Linked DNA regions of Homo sapiens: regions 1 and 3 are each linked to region 2. Evidence: fine-mapped expression QTL. A gene starts in region 2. Each other region holds a variant in brackets. All regions are shown on one strand. Distances are between the middles of the regions.

Region 1 (9,430 bases), 160 kb after region 2:
CCTGGGTGACAGAGTAAGGCTCTGTCTCAAAAAAAAAAAAAAAAAAAAAAAATCAAAATAAAACAAAACTAGATTCAGGGAAATTCTATCCTCCAAATTTTTACAATCAATGTCACTGTTTTGAAATGTCAGAGTGAGTGCTTTTCTCCTCATTGTTCTTTGCCTTTTTATTTTTTATTTAGAGACAGGGTCTGGCTCTGTCACCCAGGCTAGACTGCAATGGCTCTATCATAGCTCACTGTAACCTCAACCTCCTGGTTCATGCTTGTAATTTGAAAGATTTGGGAGGCTGAGGCAGGAGGATCATTTGAGGCCATGAGTTTGAGACCAACCTAGGCAACACAGCAAGATCCGTCTTTTAAAAAAAATCCACAAAAAAACAAAAACAAAAACAAACAGAAAAGGCTGGGCACGGTGGGTCACACCTGTAATCCCAGCACTTTGGTAGGCCACAGCGGGTGGATCCTCTGAGGTCAGGAGTTCAAGACCAAGTCTGACCAACATGGAGAAACCCCGTCACTACTAAAAATACAAAATTATCTGGATGTGGTGGCATGCGCCTGTAACTCCAGCTACTTGGGAGGCTGAGGCAGGAGAACCACTGGAACCCAGGTGGCAGAGGTTGCAGTGAGCCAAGATCCCGCCATTGCACTCCAGCCTGGGCAACAAGAGTGAAACTCCAGCTCAAAAAAAAAAAAAAAAAAAAAAAAAAAAAAAAAAAAAAAAACCCAAAAATTACGTGTGGTGGCACACACCTCTAGTCCCAGCTACTCAGGAGGCTGAGGCAGGAAGATCCGTTGAGCTCAGGAGTTTGGGGCTGCAGTGAGCTATGATCAGTCTACTGCACTCTAGCCTGGGCAACAGAGCTTATCTTAAATAAACAAATAAATAAAATTCCACAATACTCCTACTATTAGTTTTATTTTGCAGAACATTCTATATGCAACTAAATTTGAGGTTTAACTAAAACCAGACATAGTGACAGACAATTGAAAGCACAGTAAAAGTAAAAGCCATATACAAGGACCACAATTTAGCCCACGTTTAGACCTAAAGCCCTACAAGTAAAATGTCACAAGAGCAAATGCCACCATATAACATCAAAACAGCCATATGAAGACCACTTTCACGTCTGTAGGCCCAGCTTATAGAAAGTTTTGCTCATCTGGTTAAAACAAATTCTATAAACAAAATTTTTAAATCTTGCACAAAAGCTTTCCTAGCTAGATCTCTATTGAGAAAACATTTACTATATGCACCATTTCCTCCTGCATATCCAAAGAACTTAATTAATTGTTGACTGTGCTATATAAATCACAGAAAGAAGTGAGGTGAATGGCTGCTTATACCTCCTTTGCTCCTACCATGGCAACATCTTCATTATTTCATTTGAGTTTCACAATCTTATGAATTAGAAAAGATAACTTATTGATGAGGCAACAGAGAAAACTTACTGTGCATACCCTTCTGTCTTTGGACTCCTGTCCCTCAGTTTCTGCAGCAGCAATACTACTCTCTTGACTCTTCTCACCCCTAACTACCTCAGACTTACCAACAGAGTCACCACAATCAACTAAAAGCCACGGATACACTCAACCAAACAAAAACTGAAGAAAAGTTTCAAATGCTTAGGGAACAAATTTTTGAGTACCAACTAGGTGCAAATTTCACATCAGGTACTAGCAAAATTACAGGAGGTGGCATAAATTAATATGGTAAGTCTTCTATGTCAGAGGTTCAATTCCTCCATCTCTTATCTACAAGATGAGAGTCTCACAGGAAATGGAAGGAGAGATATTATATATCCATACAAAATAATATCTGGGAGGCATTTATTTCCAAAAAATTAGACTTGTCAACACTAAAGAGAATCCTCTCCTAAAACACCACATTTGTATGTTTAGAAAACATCAATGTAAGCTGTCAGCTTTCAAACAAATCCTTATTTGAAATATAAGTCTGTTACACTTGCATATTCCCCCTTGTTTCATTTTGTGAATTGTGCTAAAGTACTTGTCCGGGCCCCCCTCCACCTGCTTTTTCACAAACTTCAGCAGTGCCAAAATCAAAAGACCTGGTCTTTTACCCATGTACTAAAGGAAGTAGAAAATAACCTGAACACCTCTTTCCATATGAACTGTCCCAATCTCACACCACTAAAGTGCAACCACTGTCCACTAAGTCTGAAGCACTCACTCCCCCTGGGCAGCTTTCACAAAAATAAACATGCCCAGAGCCTACCTCCCAGATTACAATGCAGGCCTCAAATGTGGCCCATTCCTTAAGACTGAGTTGATTTAGCATCTGAGTGAAAATATTTTAACATTCTGATGTACAAATACAAAACCTGTTATTTATTTATTCATTCAACTAATACTTATTGAGTATCTACAATGTGCCAGGCAAGGTTCTAGGCACTGGAGATATGGCAATGAACAAGACTCAAGTCTGTGCCCCGTGATAGCACTTGTATTCCACTGAGGAGACAAAAATAAGTCATGCAAGTAATACCATTTTAGGTGCAAATAAATGAAGAGGAAGGTGGATAAGGGGTTAGAGAGCGACTGGAGGGCAAAGTACACCTGTTTTAGATAGGTGAAGTCAGGGAAGGTCTCCGTAAAAAGGTAACATTTGAGCAGAGATCTGAATGATGAAGACCTGAGGAAGCAGAAGGAACTGCAAATTTAAGGCCCTGAGGTGTTATCTCTAATCCATGTTTGGCAAGGGATTACTATACATAAAACAGGCTTCCTAACGCCAAAGAACTTAATATAGAATTAAGACCTAACAACACAAGACAAAATCCAGGTGTCAAAATAAATGTTTCTAGCAATAATGCTATGAATTATATATCTCTCTATATAAAATACTACTACTATGGACTGGCTTAGACAGGGAAGGAGGCAAAACCTAACTATATCTGGATCTTAATGAATGAATATACTTCCAGTTCACAGAAGTGAGGAGGGAAGGAGTTTTTCCTCAGAGGCAAAAGAACAAACAGAAACACAGAACTGTAAAAGTAAAAAGACAAATCTAGAATATCAGGGTAATCTTGTTGAGCAAAATTTAAGAACATGAGGTTGAAAATGTAGGTCAGAATTAGGACTAGAATGTCTTTCTCCATTTTCATTTGGAAAATGCCTATTTATCTAAGACCAAGCTAAACATTTCGATTCCTTTATGAAGTATTCACTCCCACTCCCAAAGGCAATTGTTTCCTCTTCTGTGTTGGCACTCACCCTCCTCTGTTGATGTCTAAGGCTTAGAGATTACTTTTTCATCACAAAATCCACATTCTCCATCAACTGCTATCTCTTTTCAAACATAGTTCCTAACCCACAAGCAGCATCCAAAATATATCTGTTCAATCAACTAAAGAAAAATAAAATGGGATATAAGGTCTGTAAACTAGAAAACTCAACATAGTAAAGATGTCAATTCTCCCCGAACTGATCTACAGGTTTAATGTAATTCCTATCAAAATCCCAGCAAGGTATTTTGTGGATAAATGACTTATTTTAACATTTATATAGGTCAGGTGCACTGGCTCACACCTGTAATCCCAGCACTCTGGGAGGCCGAGGCAGGCAAATCACCTGAGGTCAGGAGTTCGAGACCAGCCTGGCCAACATGGCGAAACCCCATCTCTACTAAAAACACACAAAAAATGAGCTGGGCATCATGGCATGTGCCTGTAATCCCAGCTACTCGGGTAGCTGAGGTACAAGAATCGCTTGAGCCAGGGAGGCAGAGGGTGCGGTAAGCTGAGATCATACCACTGTACTCCAGCCTGGGTGACAAAGTGAGACCCTGTCTCAAGAAAAAAAAAAAAAAGAGAGAGAGAGGCGTAGGTCCTAGAATAGCCAGAATTATCTTGACAAAGAAGAAACAAGTGAAAGCAATCACTCTACCTGATATCAAGGCTTACCACATAGGTACAGTATTTGATATAGTGTGGTACTGGTGAAGGAACAGACACAAACATCAATGGAAGAGAACAGAGAACCCAGAAACAGATCCACCAAAATATGCCTAACTGACTGTGTTGCAACAACTGGAAATCCACAAATAAAAAAAAAAAATTGTAAAACCTCAAAATGAAACATTAACTTCAATGTAAAACATAAAACTATAAAATCTAAAAATATAGAAGAAAA[C/T]ATTTGGGATCTAGCACCAAAGTGACAAGTTCTTAGACTTGCAAGCACAATCCATAAAAGGAAAGATCAACATATCAGATCTCATCAAAATTAAAAACGTTCTGCAAAAGACCATTTCAAGAGGATGAAAAACTACAGACTGGGAGAAAATACCTGCAAACCACTTTTATGACAAAGCAGTAGTCTCTAGAATATATAATGAAATATCAAAACTAAACAGTAAAAAATACTAAATCCAATTAGAAAATGAGGAAAAAAATATGAACAAATGTTTCACCAATGATGATGTAAAGATAAGAAATAAACACATGAAAGAATGTTCAACATTATTAGCCACGAGGCAAATGCAAATTAAAATCACAAAGAGATACAACACCATCTATTAAAATGGATAAAATGAAAACCACTGAATGCTGGCAAGGATGCAAAGAAAGTTGATCCCTCATACAAGGCTAGTGGGAGTATAAAATACTACAACCACTTTGGGTAACAGTTTGGCAGTTTCTTACAAAAACTAAAGATGTAACTATTACGGGAACCAACAACTGTACTCTTCTTATACTCATACAAAAACTCATACACAAATGTTCATAGCCTACCAAGAAATAACTGTGATGTCCCTAACAGATGAAAGGTTAACAAACTGGTACATCCACACTATGAAATATAACTGAACAATAAAAAGGCAACAATTTTGATGACCTGACAGATAATTTATGCTCAGTGAAAAAAGCCAGCCCCAAAAGGTTATATGCTGTATGTTTTATTTATATAACATTCTTGAAATGACAAAATTATAAAAATGGAGACCAGATTAGTGGTTGCCAGGAGTTAAGGAAAGGCGGAGAACAGAAGTGGGTGTGACTATGAAAGAGTAACATGAAAGATCTTTGTAGTGTGGAGGCCGGGCGCGGTGGCTCACACCTGTAATCCCAGCACTTTGGGAGGCCAAGGTGGGCAGATCACGAGGTCAGGAGATCAAGACCATACTGGCTAACACGGTGAAACCCCGTCTCTACTAAAAATACAAAAAATTAGCCAGGCGTGGTGGTGGCCACCTGTAGTCCCAGCTACTCGGGAGGCTGAGGCAGGAGAATGGTGTGAACCCGGGAGGCAGAGCTTGCAGTGAGCCGAGATCGCGCCACTGCACTCCAGCCTGGGTGACAGAGTGAGACTCTGTCTCAAAAAAAAAAAAAGAAAGATCTTTGTAGTGTGGAAATGTTCTGTATATTAACTGTATCAGTATCAATTTCCCAGTTGTGACACTGTTTGCAAGTTTATTACATATTACCATTTGGGGAAACTGGGTAAAGGGTTCACAGTATCACTATGTGCTATGTCTTACAACTGCATGTGAATCTACAATTATCTAAAAAAAAATTAATTTAAAAAATGGATAGGCCAGCCATGGTGGCCCATACATGTAATCTCCACACTTTGGGAGGCTGAGGCAGAAGAATCGCTTGAGCCTAGGAGTTTCAGATCAGCCTGGGAAACACAGCAAGACCTTGTCTCTACAAAAAATTAAAAAATCAGCTGGACATGGTGGTACACACTTGAGGTCCTAGCTACTTGGGAGCCTGAGGAGAGAGGATGGCTTGAACCTGGGATGTTGAAGCTGCAGTGAGCCGTGATAGTGCCACTGCACTACAGCCTGGGTGACAGAGGGAGACCCTATCTCAAAACAAAGAAACAAACAAAACAAACAAAAAGGATAGAAGGCAAAGAAGTCAATCTTAACAAGCAAAAAACATTTTTGGGGCCAGGTGAAGGGAAGAATAGGTTGACAGGTGAACTATTAGAGGGTCTTCCCTCCAAGTTCAAGTTCAATGTTAACTGGGTTGGAAGGTATAGGGACTACGAAATCATGAGAGGCTCAAATGGCTGAACTGGGAGCTTTAAAGGAATCAAGAACACTTGGATTATTACAGTTTGTGGGGAGCATGGTTAAGAATCAACAAGAAGGGACACCACAGCTTCTTTTACAGTGAAAACTGCATCTCCCAGGTTTGCAAACTGTTCACTGGAATGAAGTCTCTTTCCTCCAAATTCCTTTTCAGAGAACTTTCTATTTTCTTTTTTTCACTCTATCGCCAGGCTGGAGTGCAGTGGCGCAATCTCGGCTCACTTCAACCTCCGCCTCCCGGGTTCAAGTGATTCTCCTGCCTCAGCCTCCCGAGTAGCTGGGACTACAGGCGCACGTCACCACGCCCAGCTAATTTTTGTATTTTTAGTAGAGACAGGGTTTCACCATGTTGGCCAGGATGGTCTCGATCTCTTGACCTTGTGATCTGCCCGCCTCGGCCTCCCAAAGTGCTGGGATTGCAGGCGTGAGCCACCGTGCCTGGCCTGAAAACTTTCTTTCACAATAGCAATGAGCAAAACTGACAAAGTCTGCACCTTTGGTGCTTACATGCTAATGGAGAAGAAAGATGATACCAAAATATATATATAGGCATTTTACAAAATAGCTGACCAGTACTCCTCAAGACTGTGAAATAAAGCTTATTTTTTTAAATCAAAAACAAAATAGCACCTCCTACTTGTCTTATTACATCTAAAGAGTTATTTTTACTTGCTAATTGTTAATGCTGTTTTATCTATAAAGTGGTAAAGTATTCACTAAAACTTAATTTTTCTAAAAATAAAGTTATTTTACAGCACCACAGTTTGGATATCTCGGTGAAATTCAGCATAATGGAACTTTATTTGTACAGTTATAATGAAATCTTAATAACAAGAGCAAAAATATTATCATCTCTATCCTGCAGAAAAGGATAGAGATAATAACAGATCTAAACAGAAAATGTTTTACAGTCACACAAAAATTAGTGATAAAAGCAGATTTAGAATTCCAGATTCTCAATCAAAAAGTGATTACTGCAATATTCATTTTTCTTCCCTCACACAAAGAATCTCTTTTTCTTCCTCCTATGTGAATAAGGGTGCTCTCTTGAACTGGAGACTTCCATGACTGGCTAATGTAAGAAGCAATGCCTGTTTTCATTAACGTTTTAATTTTTCATAGAGCATCTCAGGAAGTCCACAGAGCTTGAATTTGTCAGGATACCTTCCTACACAGAAAAGTTACAAGCTTTCTGCATGTGAACTTCCCAATGCTGCACCAGCATTTATTTTGAGATGACATTCTTGGACTAAATTCATCATCAATGATGCCTAATAAAACACTTAATTACAAGCAACACACTCTTCTCTTACTAAACCAGATAAATGTACCAGTTAATTAATACTTAACTCCAATTCAACAAATATGTCCTGAATGATTGTGTCCAGTCACTGTAGAGGCACTAAGGATATAGTGATGAAAATGTAGCTCCAGCTCTTGTCCAGTAAACAGACAACTATGGAAAGGTCTGAAGAATTCTAAGATGCAGATTCATTCAGGGAGCCATAGCTCCAGAAGAGCACAAGAAGTCACCTAAATCAGTATGAAGACAGTCAAACTATCAAGGGAAAGCGAGGCATGGAGACCTGAAAGATAGCAGGTATCAGCCAGCTGAGAAGGGGACAGGGGAATATGTAACAGACTGACACAAATATTTACAGCCATTCACTTCAAAAAATACAATGAAATGATAAGAAGAAGAATCCCCAAGAAAATAGAGAAAAATTTAGGCAGAAAACCTGGTAACTAACAGGCAAGTGCTAACTGACTTTACAGTTCAGCGAAAGATAAAACTGAAGCTGGCCATATGGAAGCTTGGAAAGAAGCTGCTTGTTACCAGTAAAACAAAGAGAAAGTCATGAAATAAACACACAGGCACCTTCAAAAGTGGATGTGTGGATAAATTCATCCTTGAAACTGTGCAACAGGCAAAGAAGCATTTGCACATTTCTTTCCTTTCACCAAGAATAAAGACTACACTACCCCTTCCAGATACCGGACTCAATGACAATAGGCACAGCTGGTGGGGAGGAGGTAGGAATGAGAAAATGAATAGAGAGACTAAGTGAAATTTTACTTCCTAAACTGTGAGAATTCAGGTCCTTTCCTTCCCTGCTTGGCGACCCAAATGCTGGCAGTTTACACTCTTCTACAGACAAGAGAGTAAAAGATTCTTCTCTAGGAAATCTGACACTGACACACACCCACACACCACCCCACCCTAAAGGACCTATGGACAATGACATCTAGAGATTTACCAATGAAATGGACCTACAGTGAAGCTCACAGTTTACAAGTCCTACTACCCATGTGTGGTAATTTCCCGTTTTTCATTTTAAACCTCACGTGACTTTTTGAAACTATGTACTTTGATAAAAGTTAAAGACAATGGCAGGTAAAAGCAACATGGAAAGGAAAAAGAAGTATCTAAGCAGATGATTTATTTCTTCTCATCTTACAATCATTTGTCTATAATAAATGAGTAAAAATAGAATTTTAAAACAAATCATTCTCAATCCTAATAAAAATACATGCCAAAATAGGGTTAAGTAAAAAGTACTCAACCTGTGTATCCATTAACATAGATGGCAACTCCACTAAAAATTGTAGATGAAGTCCCATCCTTCTGCATAGCAGCATCTGATCGAAACTGTTCCTCCAATTTCTGGACCTTGGCAGCCATATACCCACCCTAGAATTAAAGAAAAGGTAAACCAATCACAAAGGTTACATTTTCTCCCCCCTTTTTTGAAAAAAAAAAATTTTAAAAACTAAATAAATAAATGGACCTTATTCTGTGCTAGTGACCAGAACATAATGATGACCTCATAAACATAAACCATAAGGCAAGGCAATAAATAAAACAGGAAAGTTGGGCCGGGCGCAGTGGCTCACACCTGTAATCCCAGCACTTTGGGAAGCTGAGGCAGGCGGATCACCTGAGATCAGGAGTTTGAGACCAGCTTGGCCAACATGGTGAAACCCCGTCTCTACTAAAAATACAAAAATTAGCCGGGTGCAGTGCCAAGTGCCTGTAATCCCAGCTACTCGGGAGGCTGAGGCAGGAGAATTGCCTGAACCCAGGAGGTGGAGGTTGCAGTGAGGTGAGATGGCGCCACTGCACTCCAGCCTGGGTGACAGAGCAAGACTCCATCTCAAAAAAAAATTATAATAAATAAATATAAATACATAAAACACATAGGTCAAAGAAGAATTTTCCCTCTATCAACTCAAGTTTTAATTTTATTACATTCTTATGATTATAAAAGTTACTTTTAAAAAAAGCTAAGTCAATAATAATAATACTGGCTGGGCACAGTGGCTCACACCTGTGATCCCAGCATTTTGGGAGGCTGAGGTGGGC
Region 2 (11,320 bases):
CAAAAACAAAAGCAAACCAACAAAAACAAGTACTTTCCCTTTTTCCTCCAGCTGCAAAGCTGAAGTTCAATCACAGCAACTAAATCAGCCTCAGTGATTAGCTTAGTCATGTGTACTCGGTTGCCTTGATTCTGGTTTTCTATTTGAATTAGTCTTATTCATTAGTCTTATTCTGGCAACCACCTCAATTCTTCTATGGAAATAAATGCTTTAGGAATAAATTCAATTTGGCATTTTTTATAGTGGACAATGAGCAGCTATTGATGGTGTATATTTAAAGTCTGGCTTCAAGCAGTGCTGTTTTAAGCCCACCTTGCATTCCAGAGAACCCCAATCTTTTGTGGGACATTTGGGGAGAGGCTGATTGTTGGTGGCTGTTCCTAACTCCAGGATTTGTTGGACAGTTTAGGGAAAAAATAATCTTTTTTGTTGCATTTTCAAGTATTAGAAGTGCCATTGTGTTCCTGTGCTTATCCTTCCCATCTCCAAAGTCATTTGTAAAAATCAGCCACACTCACCCATCAGGGCAAGGAGGCCCAGCAGCAGCCACAATGCAGACATGATGACGATCTGGCTCTACGGCTCCTGAAACACTTTTAAAACAAAAATTAGCTTGAGAATACAAAAATATCAGTCATCATCATAACCACATGTAATATTTCCACAGAAGCAGGGGTGAAAAGAACAAATTTCCCCATATCTGACCTAAGAAAATGAATTATTTGAATCATAGTGAAAAAAAAGCAAAAGTAGGACAAGTAAGTGCTCCATTCATCCTTTCAATTAATCTAAAAATGAGAAGACTCTTACTCAGCCCACAGGAACTCAACATACAGTCAAGTTACTAACTACTTTATTTCAAGAAGGCAAGACACTTTGAATCTCAACCACCAAGAAACATACTGACCTGGCTCCAGACCCTGAAAAGCAAATTTCTGATGCCCATACCTCATCCCAAGAGCCTTTTTATTATCTCCATTATCAAAAGGAGAATTTTGTATTGGTGACTTCTTGGAATTTAGGTCCCTTCTTCTTCAGGTTTGAGGAAAGACCACGCTTTCCTCAGTGCCCTGGAATGTACACTGGTTGGAAGACGTTTCCCACTGCTCTAACCCCAGCCTGGAATCACAGACCCCCTTTATCACCTTGAGCCATGTTCCCCATTCCCCCTCTGTAAAACCCCAATGCGGCAACAAACCTGGACCAGAGCCCAGGGAGAATGGAGCTACCTCCACCAGCAAATCCCCAAGAAGCTGGCTCATGGGCAGGGGTCCCAGGATTGAACTCATGAGGTGCTCACAAGACTGGAGAATGAACACGTGGCCAACATGGAGCACCCGCTCATGTGCTCTCTCTCTCTCTTATCCCAACCATTCCCCTAATCACCTTCCATGAGTACAAACAGCCCTGGTTCTCCTACTGGCTACCAAACCAATACACAAATACCACCAAGGATAGTTTGCTGTTAACCTCAGGGAATGGTAGAGTTTCTGGACCTTTGCCTCCAAAGCGCCTCCCACCAAGCCCTGCCACTCCAGGGTGTATGTCATCATTGCCCCAGTCAGCAGAGCCTGGCAGCCTAGCATTTTGAATTATTACTGTCATTACATGTAGGAATGTGCATATAAACAAGGCACTTGGTACTTTCATAATGCTTCTCTCATCTCTTTTGTTTTGAGGTTAACCTTATGGGTTGTTTCTTTCAAACACCCAGGAAGAGATCACATCTCAAGATGGAGAGGCTTTAAGGAAGTCATTTGAAGCCAGGTGTGGTGGCATACACCTGTAGTCCTAGCTACTTGGGAGGCTGAGGCAGGAGGACTGCTTGAGCCCAGAGGGTCAAGGGTGCAGTGAGCTATGATCACACCACTGCACTCCATCCTGGGAAACAGAGCAAGAGCCTGTCTCAAAAAAGAAAAAGGAAGTTATTCGATTTCTGTCTTCTTAAACTGAGGGGGCATATGCCCTTCAGTTGCAGTCATGCTTTTTGTTATTCTCTCTACAACATTGAGATGGTCTGTCCGATTTTGCTTAGTTGAGCACAAAATGTCATGGTCAGTCCCAACACCAAAAAGATTCAGGGACCTGGAATCTTAGCTGGGTCTGCAGGAACGCTCAGATTTAATCACCCAACAGGAGTCATTTATTCAGCATCCTGAGCCTCCAGCAGTAAACAAGAGAGGACAACCAATCCCAGGAGAAAAGAATGGACAAAGAGCTGCTTGGGTATAGGAAAAGCTCATGGTCTCATGAAAGTGCATCACTGGCTTTATGGAAGGACCCTTCAGGAAAAAGCACTGCTCACATTCAAATGCTCCACCCAGGGTATTTCACTCTTTTTGCTGCTTTTCCAGGAAAGAAAAAATACTTCCTCTTGGAAACCCAAGTGGAAGGACTCAGCTTTTATTGTAACAGGAGAGCTACCGTATTTTCCATGCTTGGAACTAAATATCTGTGTTGAGAAGTCACTTTAATGAAAGAGTCTATGTAAATACATGTGCCACTTAATGGGAACACAGAATTACTTTCTAGTTGCTCCTGGGACCAGGTCATCAAGGTAAAGTTTTTCAATTTCATCAGGGAAGAGCAAGAAGTGACAATGGAATTTTTCTTTTTTTTCTTAGAGCCAGAGTTTTACTCTGTCACCCAGGCTGGAGTGCAATGGCACGATCACGGCTCACTGCAGCCTTGACCTCCTGGGCTCAAGTGATACTCCCACCTTAGCCTCCCAAGTAGCTGGGGCTAGAGGTGTATGCCACCATGCCCAGATAATTTTTTAGTTTTTATGTAGAAATGGGTCTCACTATGTTGCCCAGGCTGGTCTTGAACTCCAGGCTTCAAGTGATCCTTCCACCTCAGCTTCCTGAGTAGGTAGGGTTACAGGCTCAAGCCACCACACCTAGCTTGGAATTCTTAAATGGATGAACAATGTCATTTTGTCCATAAATACAGCATATTGAAGCAACCCAAACTCTATGGCCCAACTTTACAAGTGACGAAAAGTACTCTGTGTTTAGAAGAGATTGTTGAGACATCACTCGGGTGTGCTCAAAGAGTGTCTGTCAGTTCCCTATGACTCATTTGTTAATTCCCCTGTGGCTCCCTGCTTAAAACCATTATGAAGATGTCAGACCAAGGCAGCACAGTGGTCATGATGTCAAGCACAATGTTTATGGTAGCATCCCTCTTCTCCCTTCCCAGAGAGCAAAATAGTAACAAACAGCAAGGGGGTGTCAACAAGCTGGGGCAACAGGCCTGCCAGGCACACTGGAAACTGACAACCAGAGCATCCCTCAGGAGCTACCTCATGTTCCTGGTGGCTTTGATGGGGACATCTTCCTCTACTCACCCTCTCTCCACTGAGTACTTTGGAATTCCCAAAGCACTGTGTAAGTTTGTAAGGCATAATGGACCATGTCTTCTTCAGTTCATCAATTTTTCTAGAAAAGGTAGAAACAGGTATCTTTGGTCTTATGGTTTTCTCACCTTAGAAACTTTTCCATGAATGCTCTCAATCTTTACCTTGAACAGTATCATTGCAGGTCATTGGGGCCCTCCATCCAGCCCAGAAATGTGACGTATTAACACCTCAACGTGCCCAATGAAGGTGCCCCTGCCCCATTGTGGTGTCCCCATCTAATCCTGAGAGAACTGAGAACTCCTGTATGCATCCACATTAGGCATGGTCTCCTGCTCTAAGCTGTGTTGTCACCCTTGTTTATTGCTAACATGTCTCTGTGTCTACCTACTCATTGTGTGCCAACAGGCCTTTCTTTTTTTAATTTTTTAATTTTAATTTTAATTACTTTTTGTTTTGTTGGGTTTTGCTTTGTTTTGTTTGAGACAAAGTCTCACTCTGTCGCCCAGGCTGGAGTGCAGTGGTGCGATCTCAGCTCAATGCAACCTCCGCCTCTTGAATTCAAGTGATTATCTTGCCTCAGCCTCCTGAGTAGCTGAGACTACAGGCACTCCACGCCCAGCTAATTTTTGTATTTTTAGTAGAGATGGGGTTTCACCATGTTGGCCAGGCTGGTTGAGAACTCCTGACCTCAGGTGATCCACCCACCTCAGCCTCCCAAAATGCTGGGATCATAGGCATGAGCCACCGCGCCCAGCCCCTGGGTTTTTTTCTTTTTCTTTTCTTTTTGTTTTTTCTTTTTCTTTTTCTTTTTTTCTTTTTTTTTTTTTTTTAATCGAGACAAGGTCTCACTCTGTCTCCCAGGTGGGAGTGCAGTGGCCCAAAATTGTGGAATCATCTCACCATTATAAGCCTGTAAGAATGTCTCATTAGATTACTCTTTAATTTTTAAAATTGTTTTAATTTTTTTTTTTTCAAAACATAGTCTGACTGTCACCTAGGCTGGAGTGAAGTGCTGTGATCTCGGCTCACTGCACCCTCGACCTGCCTGAGCTCAGGTGATTCTCCTGCCTCAGCCTCCTGAGTAGCTGGGATTACAGCCCTGTGCCACCACGCCCAGCTAATTTTTGTATTTTTAGTAAAGACGGGGTTTCGCCATGTTGGCCAGGCTGGTCTCAAACTCCAGGGCTCAAGCAATCTGCCTGCCTCAGCCTCCCAAAGTGCTGGGAACCACCAACACCTGGCCTGTTTTAAAATTATTTTTAATTTTTTATTATTTTAACTTTTTAATTTTTTTAATTTTTGTTTTTTTAAAATTTTTAAATATTTATTTTATTCCATTTTTAAAATGTTTAAGTTTTTAAATTTCTTAAAGGCCTTACCAGTAGCATCATGTCGTACTCATCCTCTTCTTGCTATTCTAATCTTCTCCCTCCCTACATATATACACACACACGTACACACACACACGTACACACACACACATGCACGTACAGCAACACTCCAGCCCATTGCCTCACAGATTGCTATGCACCAACAGGCCTAAAATTAAAATAGTAATAGCAATGTAGTCACAAATATAAAATAATATAAAATTATTCTGCCACTAAGATCTTTTTTTTTTTGAGAAAAATACAACTTTTTAGAGCAAAAATATAGGGCAGCAACAGGAAGGCTCATTTTAAGCTGTTACGCTGCGTAGAGCTGCACCTTCACATGGCCTGTGAAAATACCTATTCACTGAATTTGGATTGTAATCAATAATTACCAGCCTAGAAGACCTCTGAAAGTTTGATCATTTTCTTCCCTCTGGGCAGGCAAATCTTCCCTGCATAGAGACACTGTGAGCTGGAAGGGAGTTCCTTCTCTCAGTGCGTCCTCTGTGCCTGCTTTTCCCATTTGCGTTTTTGAGAGTTCAGAACTCCAGGAAGGATCATCCTATGCTGGAGATTTCCCCGTGAACGTTTCCTTCTGCACAGAGCAAATCAGGGAGACTTGGCCCCTCTGTTCCGTCTATGGACTCTAGAGGCGTATCTGTCTTTTTAGTCTGTTAGCCGAGGCTGTTAGACATGTTGGCCTTAGTTCTTACACAGCTTGCAGAGAAAATAAGATTGTTATAGAACCAATACTCATGGTCTATGGGTTAATGTAGCATTGGCAAGACTGCCCATGAGGGCAGGCAAGGGATTTACCGTCTGGCAAAATACAAACACCTTAGTCTTTTGGCTTTCAGTTAACAAATATGACGTCGCATTTGGCCCTATTACAGCTACAGTTAAGTGCACACACATTTCTTTTCTCCCATTATTCGATTTGCACATGCTCACAAATCCAAAAGTAATGACATACTTGCATTAAAAGATATCTAAATTTTGATGAGTGTTGTAATGAACAGGAAAAATTATTCTATCATCTACAAATCTTTTCAAACTTGGGTTTTCTTTGCAAGGTCCTTAAGTTTCGCCTGAGTCCAATATTTCTTATGCAGCAGAGACACAATCATTGCCAACTGATCACCATACACTGGATTTTCATCCTCAATAAGCCCGAGTGTAAGATCCATGCCTCTGCTTCACACTCACCTGTCTTCAGTCAGTGCTCCTCCTTAGAGGTGGTGAGCCCACAGCGATTTATATAGAGTCCTGTTCTCTTGTTAAAAGTGTTCATCTCATCCTATTTTGGAGAGATTTATGACATCTCATAAATTATAATAATAATCATAATTATTATAAATACTCCGAACTTATATAGGGCCTTTTATTCGAGAATGTCCTGGCATTTTGCAAACATTAACCAATTTGTTTCTTGCCATACCTCAGAAGGCAGATCCTAGTTGTAGTTTAACTTTGACACATTGAGGTCCAACACTTGTCTTTATTCACATCATTTTCTGGGAATGTGGGTTAGGTAAGAAAACAAGGAAGGAAGAGAGAGAGAAAGAGAGAGAGAGTGAGAAGGAGAGAGAGAGTGAGAAGGGGAAGGGAGGAAGGGAAGAGGAAGGGAGGAAGGGAAGGAAGAAAGAAAAGGAAGAAGGAAGGAAGGAAGGGAGGGAGGGAATTGAACTTGGTGTGTCAGAAACTCATTATTGGTTTGTATTTCAGGTAAGCAGAGCGCCTAGACCAGGGGTTGGCAGCTTTTTCTTACAGACCCAGACAGGTTTTTGGGCTACGTGGTCTTTATAATGCCTCTGACATTGTAGCATGAGAGTGATCATAGATAATATTTAAATGAATGGCCAAGACTGTGTTCCAAAAAAAAAACTTTCTTTACTACACAGGTGGTGGCCCTAGGGCCGTAGGTTGCTGGCCCCTGTTCTGAACCACCGAGAGATACCAGTTCACATGTCCTCAGTTCAGCAATGTGGGGAGAGATGATCGGCTGGATGATGCTATTTTACAGACACCCAGGACCTACAGCGTGTTCCAAATGTCTACATCAATAAGTACTTTGAGAGGGTTCATATGAAGTTTCCAGGAAGGATTCTTTCCCAAGTTGTGGAAAGGGTGCATTTCATGACTGAAAGAGGGAGCCCCCTCCCTCACCACACCCTGTGCCCCAGCTCAGCTGAACAGCTTGATTTTCCCCAAACACAGCGCCATTCTTTGCACTAGGCATTCCTACAGGATCTTTCCTTTTTATCTAAACCCTCAGGGACAGGGGCTGTGTCTCATTCGTCTTTATAATACCAGCATGCAACACTCTGCATGATACATATTAGACACTCAGTAAAACACGTGGAATCAATGGCTTGCTTATCGGCTGACTGGTATACAGTCTGTTTCTTCTGCATCCCCTGCCTTAGCTCCCTCCCCATACCACAACTCAAACACAAGCTCCGTGAGAGCTGTGAATCTGGCTACTTCATTTATAAGACTGAGTCTTCAGTGCCCAGATAACAGCCTGGCACACTGTAAGTGTTCAGTAAATCTTTGTTGAATCAGTCAATGACTGAAGAATTCCTACAACCTCACCCAGCAAGATTTGGACTGGGCTTCCAATGCTGGGCCCCAGGTTAGACGTGTGTTCCTTGTGTTTCAAGCAACATGTGGATATTTCTACCATAGCACCTACAGCACTTTGGTTTGTTGTTGTCTTGAGAACAAAAACAAAGGCTTTTTTCTCCTGTATTCCTTATGGCACATAAGGGGTATTCAGTACATGTTTACGGAATGAGTAAATGAATGATTTAAAGCGTATTTATGACTTTTTGGAAGTCACTCACTCTGCATCCCCAGTGCAGACATTGAGGGTTAAGATTTTGTTATTCTCAGCCGGGCACAGAGCCTCACGTCTGTAATCCCAGCGCTTTGGGAGGCCGAGGCAGGTGGATCACTTGAGGTCAGGAGTTCGGACCAGCCTGGCCAACATGGCGAAACCCCATCTCTACTAAAAATACAAAAATTATCCAGGCATGGTGGCACACACCAGTAATCCCAGCTACTCGGGAGGCTGAGGCAGGAGAATCAGTTGAACCAAGAGGGAGAGGTTGCAGTAAGCCAAGATCATGCCAGTGTACTCCAGCCTGGGCCACAGAGCAAGCCTCCATCTGAAAAAAAAAAAAAAGAAGATTTTGTTTTTCTCTACTTGTGACTGAGATGGTGAGACCACAAGGCAGGGCACTGTGAGCAAGGGTCCAGATTTGGACACCCAGGGAGTTCCTGAACTTTAACTCTGGGAGGGGAGTGTGAGAACACTGGGTTCCTCTCGGTTGTTGGCAGAGTTGGGGTAAAAAGAGAACTAATGCACCCATTAAAAACTCTATCCTGACCCCCAAAATGGAACTCATCCATTTTATTTTTTCCACCAAGCTCTAGCACATACCAACAATTAAAAGGTATTACAGTGTGGGGAAATCTGGGGATGCCCAGCTCCACCTACAAAAGCACCCTGTCATCAGCCCAGAGGGCCATGTTAGCATCCTGGGAGGTTCTCCTGGGCAGCAGCCAGCATGTTGCCTGGCAAAGGCTCCACAGAGACGAAATGGCTTCTCACAAACCCTGCCTCTCTATGATGACTTCCACCTCCTCACCTGCTGCACCTGGGTCCCCACCCTAAGAATCCTAGAAGCTGAGGAGGTCGTTCTCCATCCAGCCTCCGGGACACTCCGCAGGCACATGACGGTCAGATTTATGTTTTAAAAAGTGTCCCCTGGCTGCTGATTGCATTGGAGGTGAGCCAGAGTGACTCGGGAGACTTCACAGAAGACCAGAAGAGAGATGATGGTTGGACTAGAGTGACGGGGCTATGGCTTGGCTGTGTCTCCACTGAAATCTCATCTCAAATTGTAGCTTCCATAATTCCCTTGCATTGTGGGAGGGACACAGTGGGAGACAATTGAATCATGGAGGCAGTTTCCCCCATACTGTTCTCCTGGTAGTGAATAAGTCTCAAGAGATCTGATGATTTTATAAGAAGAAACCCCGGCCGGGCACGGTGGCTCACGCCTGTAATCCCAGCACTTTGGGAGGCCCAGGCAGGCGGATCACGAGCTCAAGAGATAGAGAACATCCTGGCTAACACAGTGAAACCCCGTCTCCACTAAAAATACAAAAAAATTAGCCAGGCGTGGTGGGGGCACCTGAGACTTCAGGGGATTGTTGGGAAGGCAAGATTGGTTTTGAAATGTGAGGACATGAGATTTGGGAGGGGTCAGAAGTGGAATGATATGATTTGGCTCTGTCCCCACCAAAATCTCATCTCAAATTGTAGCTTGCATAATTGCCTTGTGTTGTGGGAGGGACCCAGTGGGAGACAATTGAATCATGGAGGCAGTTTCCCCCATACTGTTCTCATGGTAGTGTATAAGTCTCATGAGATCTGATGATTTTATAAGAGGAAACCCCTTTCACTTGGCTCTCACTCTTCTCTTGTCTGCTGCCATGTGAGACATGCCTTTCACCTTCCGCCATGATTGTGAGGCCTCCCCAGACAAGTGGAACTGTGAATCTGTTAAACCTCTTGCTTTTGTAAATTGCTCAGTCTCAGGTATGTCTTTATCAGCAGCATGAAAGTGGCTAAGAGAAAAAGGAAAGATATTACAGATCTATTTTAGAGGTGGAATTGACAGGACTCAGTTTGGGACAAGACGCCAAGGATGAGAGCAAAGAAGAGGACATAAGTGCCTGGGAGGATGGTACTAAGTCTGGAATGCTGAAGATGAAAGCACATTTACCAAAGAAGATGAAGTTTTAGGCTGGGTGGAGTGGCTCACGTCTGTGGTTCCAACACTTTAGGAGGTCAAGGCACTTCAAGACCAGCCTGGGCAACATAGCAACATCCTGTCTCAATTTATGAAAAAGAAAAAGAAAGGATTATGTTTTAACTCCCATGTAACAAACCTACACGTGTACACCTCAATCTAAAAATGTTTTTAAAGAGAAAAAATAACAAATTGTGGTGTAGATATGGAGAAATGGAGCCCTTATACACTCTAGGTGGGTATATACACGAATCTAGCCATTATGGAAAACAGTATGGAGATGCCTCAAAAAATTAAAAGTAGAAGTGGCATATGACCCAGAAATCTCACTGCTGGGTATGTATCCAAAGAAAATGGATATGTCAAAGGGAAATATGCACTCCCATGTTGACTGCAGCATTATTTGTAATAGCCAAGACACAGAATCATCCTAAGTGTCCATCAACACATGAGTGGATAAAGAAAATGCAGTATATACACATAATGGAATAATATTTTGTCATTAAAAAGCATGAAATCCTGTCATTTGCAGCAACACGATCAACCTAAAGGACATTAAGTGAAATAAGGCACAGAAAGACAAAATCACCCATTTGTGAAATCTAAAAAAGTTGATCATGTGTAATGGCCAGGTGTGGTGGCTCACGCCTGTAATCCCAGCACTTTGGGAGGCCGAGGCAGGCAGATTACCTGAGTCGGGAGTTCGAGACCAGCCTGGCCAACATGGTAAAACCCCGTCTTTACTAAAAGTACAAAAATTAGCCGGACATGGTGGTGGGCACCTGTAATCCCAGCTACTCAGGAGGCTGAGGCAGGAGAATTGCTTGAACCTGGAAGGTGGAGGTTGCAGTAAGCCAAGATCCCGCCACTGCACTGGGAAACAGAGCAAGACTCCATCTCAAGAAAAAAAAAAGGCGATCTCATAGAAGTAAAGAGCAGAATAGTGGCTACTAGAGGCTGGGGAGGAATGGGGAGAGATTGGTTGCATGCAAAATTACAGCTAGATAGGAGGAGTAAGTTCTGGTGTCCTATTGCACACTGCAGTGACTATATTTAACAATATTGTAGTGTATACTACAAAATATCTAAAAGGGAAGCTATTTAGTATTCTCATCAATTTGAGGTGATGGATATGCTAAATACCCTGATTTGATCATTACACAACTTATCCCATAAATCTATGCAATTCTTATGTATAAATTAAAAATAAAACTTTTACAAAATATATAATATCTTTTTATTTTGAGACGGAGTCTCGCTCTGTCACCCAGATGGAGTGAGCGTGATCTCAGCTCACTGCAACCTCCGCCTCCTGGGTTCACACCATTCTCCTGCCTCAGCCTCCCGAGTAGCTGGGACTACAGTAGCCTGCCACCATGCCCGGCTAATTTTTTGTATTTCTAGTAGAGGCGGGGTTTCACCGTGTTAGCCAGGATGGTCTCGATCTACTGACCTCATGATCCGCCGGCCTCAGCCTCCCAAAGTGCTGGGATTACAGGCATGAGCCACCACACCCTGCCTCATGATTTCTTATAAGTAAAAAACACACAAAAAAGGAGAGACCAGAGAATTGAATCCAGCCATCTAAATGGACATTGAACCCACTCAGCATGACAGAGTCAAGAATAAGACTTTGAGACAAGTGTGAACGTTTTCTTGAAAAAGTGAGGATCCAGGAGGTCTGAAAGGACAAGCCAGGGACATGGTGGCTCATAGCACAAGTTTCTGAGACACAGCCCCTGTCCCTGAGGGGTTAGATAAAA
Region 3 (11,320 bases), 68 kb after region 2:
GTGAGCGGAGATCGCACCACTGCACTCCAGCCTGGGCAACAGACTGAGACTCTGTCTCAAAAAACCAACAAAAGCAGTAGTTTTTCTTTTGACTGGAAAACTTTTAATGGGAAAATTGACACAACTTTTTTTTTTGAGACGGAATTTCACTCTTGTTGCCTAGGCTGGAGTGCAATGACACGATCTCAGCTCACTGCAACCTCCTCTTTACAGGTTCGAGTGATTCTCCTGTCTCAGCCTCCCAAGTAGCTGGGATTACAGGAGCCCGCCACCATGCCCGGCTAATTTTTGTATTTTTAGTAGAGATGGGGTTTCGTCATGTTCGCCAGGCTGGTCTCGAACTCCTGACCTCAGGTGATCCATGCACCTCAGCCTCCCAAAGTGTTGGGATTACAGGTGTGAGCCACCGTGCCCAGCAACTTTTTTAAATGCTAGCATATTTATTATCTGGATATATTCGAGGAGGAACACCATGAAAGTACCTTCATAGCTTTTAATTCTTTAGAGTTCTTGGAGTATAACTACCTATATTTTTGTATTTTATCCTACTAATACCCCCTAAAGTGGACATCATTCTCATTAACTCCATCTTGTAGAAGTGAAATTAGCTACAGAACTTACGTGGGTGTTAGTTCATTCTGATTGTTAGAACTTCATATAAGCATCTGTTGGACACCAGCCACTCAGGTACCATGGATTTAGAGATACATTAGGTACAGGATTGCCCTTTTGCTGCTGACAGTATCCTTCTGTCTTACTGTATTCCTCAGGACATCTGAGACCAACATCAGTATTGCAGACTTCTCAGGAGGCCATCTGTGAGTTATTCTGAGCTATTCTAGTTACCAAAGTGCTCAGGATGCCTTGATGCCTGTAGAACTTAGCCTGCTGCTGGCATCGGCCTTGGCCCATTATGGTCCTTGAATTGTGGTTGGGTTTTGCTCGTCATCACCACAGGGAATTGTTTTTTCATTTCAATGCTTTGCCTTTATTCTTTTTGGTAGATGACAATGAAGGAGACAAAAAGAAGAAAGATAAGAAGAAAAAGAAAGGAGAAAAGGAAGAAAAAGAGAAAGAGAAGAAAAAAGGACCTAGCAAAGCCACTGTTAAAGCTATGCAAGAAGCTCTGGCTAAGCTTAAAGAGGAAGAAGAAAGACAGAAGAGAGAAGAGGAAGAACGTATAAAACGGCTTGAAGAATTAGAAGCCAAGCGTAAAGAAGAGGTATGTTTTCATGAAGTTGGTAACATTGATATTGTGTTTAACTTAAAATCTATTCTCTGTAAAATATCTTTACTCTTCTAATTCTGAAAATTTCATAGTTGCATGGTAATTCAGTTATATTATTGTTCCGATACAAATAATAAGATGAAGAGGTACAGCACATCTTATCTTTATTTTCTCAAGAACAGATTGCTCGATACATAAGTTGCTTATGTATCATTGCCAATAATCTGATGTGATATTAATTAATAATCATGTATAACATTTAAAATACTTTGATTTGGAATCTCCTAACATAATACTTTGCATGTGTCTCAAGAGATTTATTTGAAGTTTGGATTGTTTACATTTGAATTTTATAGTTCATTAAATGAATACAGGTTTTGTCTGACATGTACTCTTTTATAGGAACGATTGGAACAAGAAAAAAGAGAAAGGAAAAAGCAAAAAGAAAAAGAAAGAAAAGAACGCTTGAAAAAAGAAGGGAAACTTTTAACTAAATCCCAGAGAGAAGCCAGAGCCAGAGCCGAAGCTACTCTTAAACTGCTACAAGCTCAGGGTGAGTGGTACTCTTCATTAACTGAATGGTCAGAGAGCTCTGCACATGCAGTTATATCCCTTAATGTTCAGAAGGAGAATGGAATTTGCATCAGGACAGTTCCTATGAAAAATCTGTGAAAAAGTTCAGTAAAACGTAAGGAATAGGTGATGTCATTTCATTGTTTAGGAAGATGACATCTACATGAGGATAAAAATTTATATGTAAATGATAGTATGTCTAAATAAGTTATCCTCCCACAAACAAGAATAGTGATAATAATAGAATGAGTCCCTGTGTACCTATCAGCCAGCTTCAACAATTAGGACCATTTGACATTCTTGTTTTGTACCTCTCCATCTACTTTTTATCCTAGCATGTTTTAAAGTGAATCCCAAAAAATAAAAAAGAAATACAGTGATTCCCAGACAGCATATTAGTTTGCCCACATGACCACGGTGAAAAAGTATTCATGACCATTTTTTTTTAACCCTTTCCTTACTTTCTGATGCAACAAGATATCCCAGGTTCATCTTGCATGGGCTGAGACCTGGAATCGGTTGTTTATCCAAAGAGCTTTTGTTCCTTTTAGAGGGTAATAGTGTTTAGAGATCACAACTGGGCATATAATTTATTACTTTTTTGAAAGGTAAGGTGATTTAAAATAGTGTCTTTGCTCCAATGAGAAGAATATATTGGGACCTCTCTTAAATTTCCTGCTCCTATATTCCCTAGATTTTTATATTACAGTCATTTTGGTGTTTATGCTATAATTACAGTAATAGCTACCATTTATTGTGTGCTTAGTGTGTAACTGATGCTACAATGTCTTTGACATTGTCTATTTTTCCCTCATAAAAAAATCTTATAGCTATTTTTACTTCCATCATATAGATGAAGAAATGGTGGTTCAGAGTGTAAACAGCTTACCCAAGGCCACAGAGCTGAAATTTAAGCTGGTCTGTGCAACTTTTTCTTACGCATATGTTCAGCTAGGAACATTAGATGTGAAGAAACCCAGTACTTAGATTTTAGAAAGTTTTATTCTTAATGGAGAATATAGCTTTTGTAAAATTTTAAATGAAATTAGGTACAAACTTGAATATAGTTAGCATTCATACATCAGATTTCATTGGTGACTATTGGAGAGGCTAAAAGCACCCATGAAGAAATTCAGATGGGACCAAGCAGGGAGTAATTTGCCAGTCTCAAAAATGCTGTTTTAAGGAGCAGTTAGACTTGTAGTTATGGAAATTACAGTGTAGAATGGTGGACTTTTAGCATCAGTCTTTAGCATTAGGCTTGTAAGAGATGCTCTCTCAAGTGGCATCCCTGACGCTGGTCTCTTACTCTTCATAGTGTTGTCCAGTGTTTACCATCTTATTAGTTCCCTATTGTCTACTAATAAGAATCCAAATTCCTTAGCTTGACATTCAAGGTTCCCCCCCACCCACAGCCCACTCATGTGAGTCATCTCATTAAAAGATCCTACAGTGTTGTTTCATCGTATGTTTGAAAGACAGCTGCTTACCACATTTATTACCTAGAATATTGTAAAACTTATTCATTGAGCTAAAAATGTACTCTCAGAGAGTGTAGGCATCTGCAGGTGTCTTCATATAATTGCTCTGAAATGTGCAGCAGGTTAACTTTTCAGTCATCCTTTAGCCTGTGACTACTAAGCATATACACACACACACATATATGAGTACTTTATCAATAATTTGTAATAAACTCATTTCAGGCAAAGAGCTTCTTCAAGAACTTGATTGTTATGTCTCAGTTTGCAAAGTGAATGGAATGTCTAAACACATACAAGTCTTGGTGTTGATTCCAAGTACAGCAGCTTATTTGAGAGTCTGAGACTAGAGCAGTAGTCAGTTGATTAAGTCTAGGGTGTTATTGGGACCACCCTTCAGGTAATCCAGCCTACAGTTTCCCCTCAGGCCCATGCTTTTCATCTTAGTAGGTGTAGGCTGCTAGGCAAGGAAAACTTAAAGTGATGATCTCTGCATTCTCAGCTGGCTTTATCCTCTTTCTTTGGTTTGTTTAATGTATTCGTCTTACCAGTCATAGCTATGGTTTTACCATTCTAGCCATTCTTCAGTACATGCACAACACACATCCATATACATTCCTACGTTAGAGATAACATTTTTAGTCATTTTCCTTTATTAGTGACTTCATTCAAAATCCCATGGTATACAATTTCTGTTGTCTTTATTCTAAGGCTTCTGCCCATAGTGAGAGACTGAGTCAGTAATCCAGTAATCTGTAGATTCAGTTCAATCCCAGTCAAAATCACAGCATGGTATTTTGTAGCTATCTGTCAACTAGTTCTAAAATGGATATGAAGAGACCAGAGAGTTAGAATGGCCAAAATATGTTTGAAAAAGGAGAACAAACTTAGAATACCTGATTTCAAGACTTAGTATAAAGCTATAGGAATTAATACAGTGTGATATTGCCAGAAAGATAGACAAACAGATAAATAGTCTATACATGGTTAGTATATAGGTGAAAGGTAATTCAGTGGATAAAATACAGTATTTGTAGCAAGTGGTACTAGAACAATTGGACATCTGTATGCAGAAAAACCCAAAACCAGTTTTAATTCCCACTGTATAAAAATTGACCCAAATGGGTATCATATGTAAATGTAAAATATACAATAATACTTTCAGAGGAAAACATAGGAGGATATCTTGTGTTAGGCAGAGTGCTTAGATAGGACTCTAAACCATAAAAGGAAAAAAGATACATTTTGAGAAAGACCAGTTCAGAACTTTTCTCTGCAAAAGACACTGTCAAGAGAATTCCAAGACAGTACCTCCAAGTCAGATATCTGAGAAAGAATTAACATCCAAAATATATAAAGACCTCTCAAAATTCAACTATAAGAAAACCAATAAGTTCATTTAAAAATGGGCAAAAGGTATCAACAGACACTTTCACCAGAAAGCTATACGCATCTGAAAAGAATGTTCTAAAAAAAGAGAAACCTTTACCACATTCAGAGCAGTTGAAACTCTTTTTTTTTTTTTCTCTCTTTTTTTGAGACAGAGTTTCGCTATTGTCCAGACTGGATTGCAGTGGCGCAATCTCAGCCCACTGCAACCTCTGCCTCCCAGGTTCAAGTGATTCT[C/T]CTGCCTCAGCCTCCTGAGTAGCTGGGATTATAGGCACCCACCACCACAATATATATATATTTTATATAATACAATTTTTTGTATTTTTAGTAGAGATGGGGTTTCACCATGTTGGCCAGGATGGTCCTGGACTCCTGACCTCAGGTGATCCACCCACCTCGGCTTCCCAAAGTGCTGGGATTACAGGCGTGAGCCATTGCGCCTGGCCAAAACTCTTCTGCATTAGTGGTGGGAATGCAAGATAGTATAGCCACTTTGGAAAACAACTGGCAGTGTCTTTATAAAAATTAAGGTCATATTTACCTTATGTTTCATCATTCACACTACAAAATATTTGCCCAAGAGAAATGTTCACACAGAAACCTGTCTGAAAATGTTCATACCTGCTTTATTCATAATTGCAAAAAACCAGAAACAACTCAAATGTCCTTCAGCTGTTGAATGGATAAGCAAACTGATATATCCATACAATGGAATGCTGCCCAACAATGAAAGTAAACGAAGTATTGACATGTGCAGCAGAGTGAGTGACTCTCAAATCCATTATGATGATAGAGGCCAGACCGTAAGATTCCATTTATGTGACATTTTAGAAAAAGCAAATCTTTTGGTTGGAGAACAGATCAGTGGTTACCAGAGGCTAAGAAGGTAAGGAGGGTTTGATTACATGGAGCAGCACAGGATGATGGAGTGATGGAGCTTTTCTGCATCTTCATTGTGATGGTGATACACGTATCAAAACTCTCACTGTATGTGAAACGAGGATTTTTACTGTATGTAAATTTTAAAATACCTTATATGTAAAAGATACAAGTTTTTCCATGAATATCCTTTCATATTTTAGGGTATGTGTCTCTGTGGTGAATGAAATGCTATCCTTTAAATAGTACTTCTCAGGTGACATGCAAGTAGTATAAGCCTGAAGTTTTTCATTTTTATCCCTCAGGTGTTGAAGTGCCATCAAAAGACTCTTTGCCAAAGAAGAGGCCAATTTATGAAGATAAAAAGAGGAAAAAAATACCACAGCAGCTAGAAAGTAAAGAAGGTTTGTATACAAAATAGCCTCTAATTTAGGAAATATGTTGTTTGCCTTTCCCCCACAATCTTCAAAACAGTGTCTGTAAAGAAGAAAGGAAAAAATCCGAAATGCATATTGAAACTTATTTTCTAAACTTATTTCTTATTAATGCCATTATTCTCACTTGATTCAAATGACAAGCTAATGGAAAAAGTATTTTACTTTGAAAAATCTGGGTTCTACCCTATGAATATTGTAACTGTTGTTAACTCTGAGAAGTAAAACTACCATTCTTATCTTTTCTTGGTTTCCTTCTTAGCCTTCTGTGATTTTTGTATTTTATTTATTGAGCAGAAAGAGTAGTTTCCTGTAAAACATATGACTATATTTAAACATTTTCTAAACTTGAAGAAATAGGTTTGCACAGGCTGGGTACAGTGGCTCACGCCTGTAATCCCAGCACGCTGGGAGGCTGAGGCGGGCGGATCACCTGAGGTCAGGAGTCCAAGACCAGCCTGGCCAACATGATGAAACCCTGCCTCTACTGAAAATAAGAAAATTAGCCTGTCATAGTGGCAGGTGCCTGTAATCCCAGCTACTTGGCAGGCTGAGGCAGGGAGAATTGCTTGAACCCGGGAGGTGGAGGTTGCAGTGAGCTGAGATTGTACCACTGCACTCCAGCCTGGGTGACAGAGCGAGACTCCATTTCAAAAAAATAAAAAATAAATAGGTTTACACTACTGTTTTTTATTCAGTACTTAATGGAGTATCTTAACAGAAATTATACACCAAAAAAAATATTATCTTGGTTTCTGCCCCTTTTTCAGTGTCTGAATCAATGGAATTATGTGCTGCTGTAGAAGTTATGGAACAAGGAGTACCAGAAAAGGAAGAGACACCACCTCCTGTTGAACCAGGCGGGTAGTGTTATCTGATTATTTAATTAGTGAATTCTTATTAAATAGTGTTGGTGTGTCATAAGTTGTCTTAGTTATTATAAATAATTGGGGAGAACCAAATAAGTATCTGGCTGGATGGCCCTCTTTCTTCATAGTTCTTTCTTTTCTATTTCTTTTCATTTCTACTTTGAATAAGTATCCAAGTGAGACTTGAATCAGTTGTGTTCTTTTCAGCAGTGTTAGAAAATGTTTTGTAGAAAGGATACACTTTGGGAGGGTGAGGCAGATGGATCACGAGATCAGAAGATCAAGACCATCCTGGCTAACACGGTGAAACTCCATCTCTACTAAAAATACAAAAAATTAGCCGGGGGTGGTGGCGGGTGCCTGTAATCCCAGCTACTTGGGAGGCTGAGGCAGGAGAATTGCTTGAACCTGGGAGGCAGAGGTTGCAGGGAGATTTCAGTGAGCCTAGGTTGCACCATTGCACTCCAGCCTGGGCAACAGAGCAACAGTCCATCTCAAAAAAAAAGGAAGAAAGGATAGTAGGTTTTGGATTTTCTCTGATGCTTTTATTTATGAGTCAGAAATCTCAAAAAAAGATCTGAAGGTCTTCATTTAATGCTTCAGAAGCAAATTGGAAGGATTTTTAACTAGAACTTTTTAAGAACCATAAAAATTGGCATTTTTAGACCTTCCTAAAGGTCGGCTTCTATTTACAATAATCAGAGAATTCAACTTACTCATTGTGGGGTATCTGTGTATATGTTGAGGAGTTGGGGAAAAATCTCTGGTTTTAAAAAAAAAACATTGTTCTAACTCTTACGACTAGATATTGATGGGAGAGCTGGGGCTGCCTAAATGTATGTTTGGTATTCAAGAGAATCCCCAGCGATTAAAGATAGGATCAGGAATGGGAAAAGCCTTTACAGAATACTAAGCCTGATTTACATTGGTGAATTATATTATTGATAGTTCCTTTCCTTCTTTTTCTCTTTTCTCTTCTGAGCGAATAGGATCATCTCACCTGGGTAGACCTCAGCCTAGCACTGATATGACGAGATTAGAGAAATTTAGATTGATATGCTTAATAGCAGTCCACTATTTTAGATCGTATTTTTAGCACCAGAAAGAATTGCTAATTTAGATGGATGTTTTGGGTACCTGAGTCTCATTTCCTCCTCAAGATAACTTATGCAGGCTTGTTAGTAAATAATGATTATTTCAGGGAAGCAGGTACCACATGTCCTACCCGTCATCTTACTTTCATTTAAGAATAGTTGTGCCTGGTTAGATTTCAGTAAAGAAAAGCATTCTTGTTAAGAAGAGTATTAGGTCTTTAATGTCTAAATAATATTCAGAATTTTAGCTTTCTGGCTGTTTTGGGGTTATGAGCACAGCATTGACCCAGAGTGATGGTGGTAGTTTTGTACCTTCAACTTCAGAATTTAAGTATATTTAAATACCTGTAAAGGTTAAAAGCAAAATAATAAATTCCTTGCATAAAGTATGAGTTGGATGATCAAAAAGAAGATATATATGAAATTTCATTTGTTTTCAAGAACTGAGTATATTCATGTAGCTTTTTCAAGATCTAAAGAAACATTTAAATTAATTAAATTAATGAAACAATTAGCTTGAATGTAAAATTGGTTAAGTTTAATATGTTGGCAGTAGTAGGAAATGGAAGCATTTAAGTAATAGTAAATTATAACATGCTAGCTATATTAAAAAGATAGTTCTGGCTGGGCGCGGTGGCTCAAGCCTGTAATCCCAGCACTTTGGGAGGCCGAGGCGGGCGGATCACAAGGTCAGCAGATCGAGACAATCCTGGCTAACACGGTGAAACCCCGTCTCTACTAAAAATACAAAAAATTAGCTGGCCACGGTGGCGGGCATCTGTAGTCCCAGCTACTTGGGAGGCTGAGGCAGGAGAATGGCGTGAACCCGGAAGGCGGAGCTTGCAGTGAGCCGAGATCACGCCACCGCACTCCAGCCTGGGCGACAGAGCAAAGACTCCGTCTCAAAAAAAAAAAAAAAAAGATAGTTCTAAAGATAATAGCTGCATACATATTTTTTACATAATTAAAACATTCTTTTTTTATGTCAGAGCATAATTTTTTACTTTTTTCTAAAAGACCTTCATATTTCTAAATAATTTTTGTGTCTTAAATGCAAATTTTTACTTACAGAAGAAGAAGAAGATACTGAGGATGCTGGATTGGATGATTGGGAAGCTATGGCCAGTGATGAGGAGACAGAAAAAGGTGAATACCTCATAAGCACACACTGATACATCCAGTGGTTATTAGAAATGAATGATATATATTTAAATGAATAGTCTTTTGATTATGAAAGCCATATGAACATTTCTGGGGATAGGGATAAGTCTCTTGTTCTCTCCTTTGCCATGGTTTCTAAGTCCTCAAGTGGATCTTCATTTTGTGAATGAGTGGTTCCTCAGAATGTTATTTGTAAGATAGCTGCCTAAGGTTTAGAATGCATTTTTTCAGAGTGATGATGTTACAAAATAGGGTTGTTACTAAAGCTGACCTACAAAAAGCACTGTTAACTTAAAAGGTAATGAGATAAATACTATAGTTCCTGATAAGTATGAATAGAAAGTAAACGTTTTTGTCATTGTTTCCCCTTCTTTATTACTGAAATCTCTACTTCGAGATTTAATTTCCTGTTAATTTTACTAACTTACTGATAATGATATCTGGCTCTTTGATTTTTTTCAGCCTCCCCCCATCTTTGTTTTTAAAGCTATACCTTTTTCTTTAAGCATGGCTTTAGTCAAATTCTGTAAGTCTGATATGTTGATATTTTCTCATTTTCATTTTGATGTATTAAGTTTTACAAGATTTATTTAGTGTATTTCTTTTTTTTGAGATGGAGTTTCACACTTGTTGCCCAGGCTGGAGTGCAGTGGCGCAATCTCGGCTCACAACAACCTCCACCTCCCGGGTTCAAGCCATTCTCTTGCCTCAGCCTCCAGAGTAGCTGGGATTACAGGCATGCGCCACCACGCCCAGCTAATTTTGTATTTTTAGTAGAGATGGGGTTTCTCCATGTTGGTCAGGCTGGTCTCGAACTCCCGACCTCAGGTGATCCGCCCGCCTTGGCCTCCCAAAGTCCTGGGATTATAGGTGTGAGCCACCACAGCCCGCCTAGTGTATTTCTTAATTTACAAAAATGGGCATTTTCTAATTGTCTTTTGTTACTTCATTGTGATCAGAGAAGATACATGATTCTATCCTTTGAAATATGTTGATTATTGCTATACAACCTAGCATGGTCAGTTATTGTAAGTGTTTCATGTTTGGAAAGAATTTATATTCTGCAGTAGTTGGATGCCTTGCTTTCTATATTTAGGTCAAGTTTGCTAATCATTTTGTTCAAGTCTTTCATAGCGTTCTGAGGGTTTTTTTGTTTTTGCTTTTGTTTTTTTTCTGATCTGTTTTTTCTCTCTGTTACTGGGACCAATGCCTTAAAATCTCCCATCATGATTGTAGATTGTCTATTTCTCCTGAGTTCTGTTAATTTTTGCTTTATGTATTTTTATGCTGTGTCATTAGGTAAACACAATCTTGTATCTTTCTAATGAATTGACTCTTTTATCATTGATATATATATTTCTAACAATGCCTTTTGATATAAAAGTCTACCTAAAACTCATATAGGTACACGAGCTTTGATTTACATGATCTTTTTCTATCTTTATGACTCTTTTTGTATCCGTAAATAGCATTATCTTAGTCCATTTGTTCTGCTGTAACAAAATACCACAGACTCAGTAGTACTAAAGAACAGAAATGTGTTTCTCACAGTTCTGGAGGCTGGGAAGTCCAAGATCAAGGCACCAGCATTGGTGCCTGGTAAAGGCTGCTGTCTGCTTCCAAGATGGCACCTTGGTGCTGCATCCTCCAGAGGGAAGGATGGCTGTGTCTTCACATGATGGAAGGGAGGGAAGGGCAAGAGGAGCAAACTCTCTTTGAAGGCACTTTTCTGCGGGCGTGAATCCATTTATGAGAGTGACTTAATCACTCCCCAAAACCTTCCCCACCACCCTCCTACCTCCTACCAGCAAAATGGGGATTATGTTTTAAACATGAATTTTAGAGGGGACACCATTTACAAATCACAGCTAGGATCTAGTTGAGATTTTTTCAATCCAGTTTGTCAATCTTTATATTTTACCTAGAGTACTTAGCCTGTTCATTAAATGTAACATTTGGTGTAATTAATGAAGTATATTGATTTTAAACATTTCATCTTACTAAGTCGTTTTTTGTTCTGCCTGGTTCTTTTTCTCTCCTTTCTAATCATCTTTTGGTTACTAGGTTTTTAAATTTTTATTTTTTTTTCCTTTCATGAGCTTAGCAGTTGTATACCTTTCAAACAACTTTTTAGTGATTAAGAAAATTTTTAGCAAGTACCTTTGAACTAACAATGTCTGATGTTATCCTCTAACAATGCAGGGACTTTAGAGTA

Alleles and levels. Positions count from the first base shown, and alleles are read on the strand shown. Sizes are in standard deviations (SD) of each study's normalised expression. Not every link is listed here.
For the expression in tibial nerve of the gene that starts at base 6,088 in region 2, allele C in region 1 goes with a lower level than allele T (small effect, 0.37 SD a copy in GTEx).

The links. PIP is the estimated chance that this variant, and not a neighbour inherited with it, causes the effect.
Region 1: its variant is the best candidate, but not a certain one, in a credible set for the expression of LYG1 in tibial nerve (GTEx, PIP 0.84).
Region 3: its variant is the best candidate, but not a certain one, in a credible set for the expression of LYG1 in whole blood (TOPMed, PIP 0.54).

What each region holds. Positions count from the first base shown.
Region 1 is chr2:99,453,865-99,463,294 of GRCh38, forward strand. REV1 (REV1 DNA directed polymerase) reads right to left here. Exons shown (of 23, transcript NM_016316.4): 3 at 8,632-8,758. Among named protein-coding and RNA genes, the nearest start is that of REV1, 31 kb to the right of the region's middle. The variant C/T (reference allele first, on the strand shown) is at 4,161.
Region 2 is chr2:99,295,110-99,306,429 of GRCh38, forward strand. LYG1 (lysozyme g1) reads right to left here and starts at 6,088. Exons shown (of 7, transcript NM_174898.3): 1 at 5,941-6,088; 2 at 3,350-3,440; 3 at 519-593. The coding sequence starts at 561. The region is part of intron 1 of LOC107985923 (a long non-coding RNA gene); the gene reads left to right. It also overlaps a transcript of TXNDC9 not described here.
Region 3 is chr2:99,362,641-99,373,960 of GRCh38, forward strand. It overlaps EIF5B (eukaryotic translation initiation factor 5B), which reads left to right. Exons shown (of 24, transcript NM_015904.4): 5 at 1,005-1,222; 6 at 1,631-1,781; 7 at 5,853-5,951; 8 at 6,752-6,841; 9 at 9,016-9,090. Among named protein-coding and RNA genes, the nearest start is that of EIF5B, 31 kb to the left of the region's middle. The variant C/T (reference allele first, on the strand shown) is at 4,906.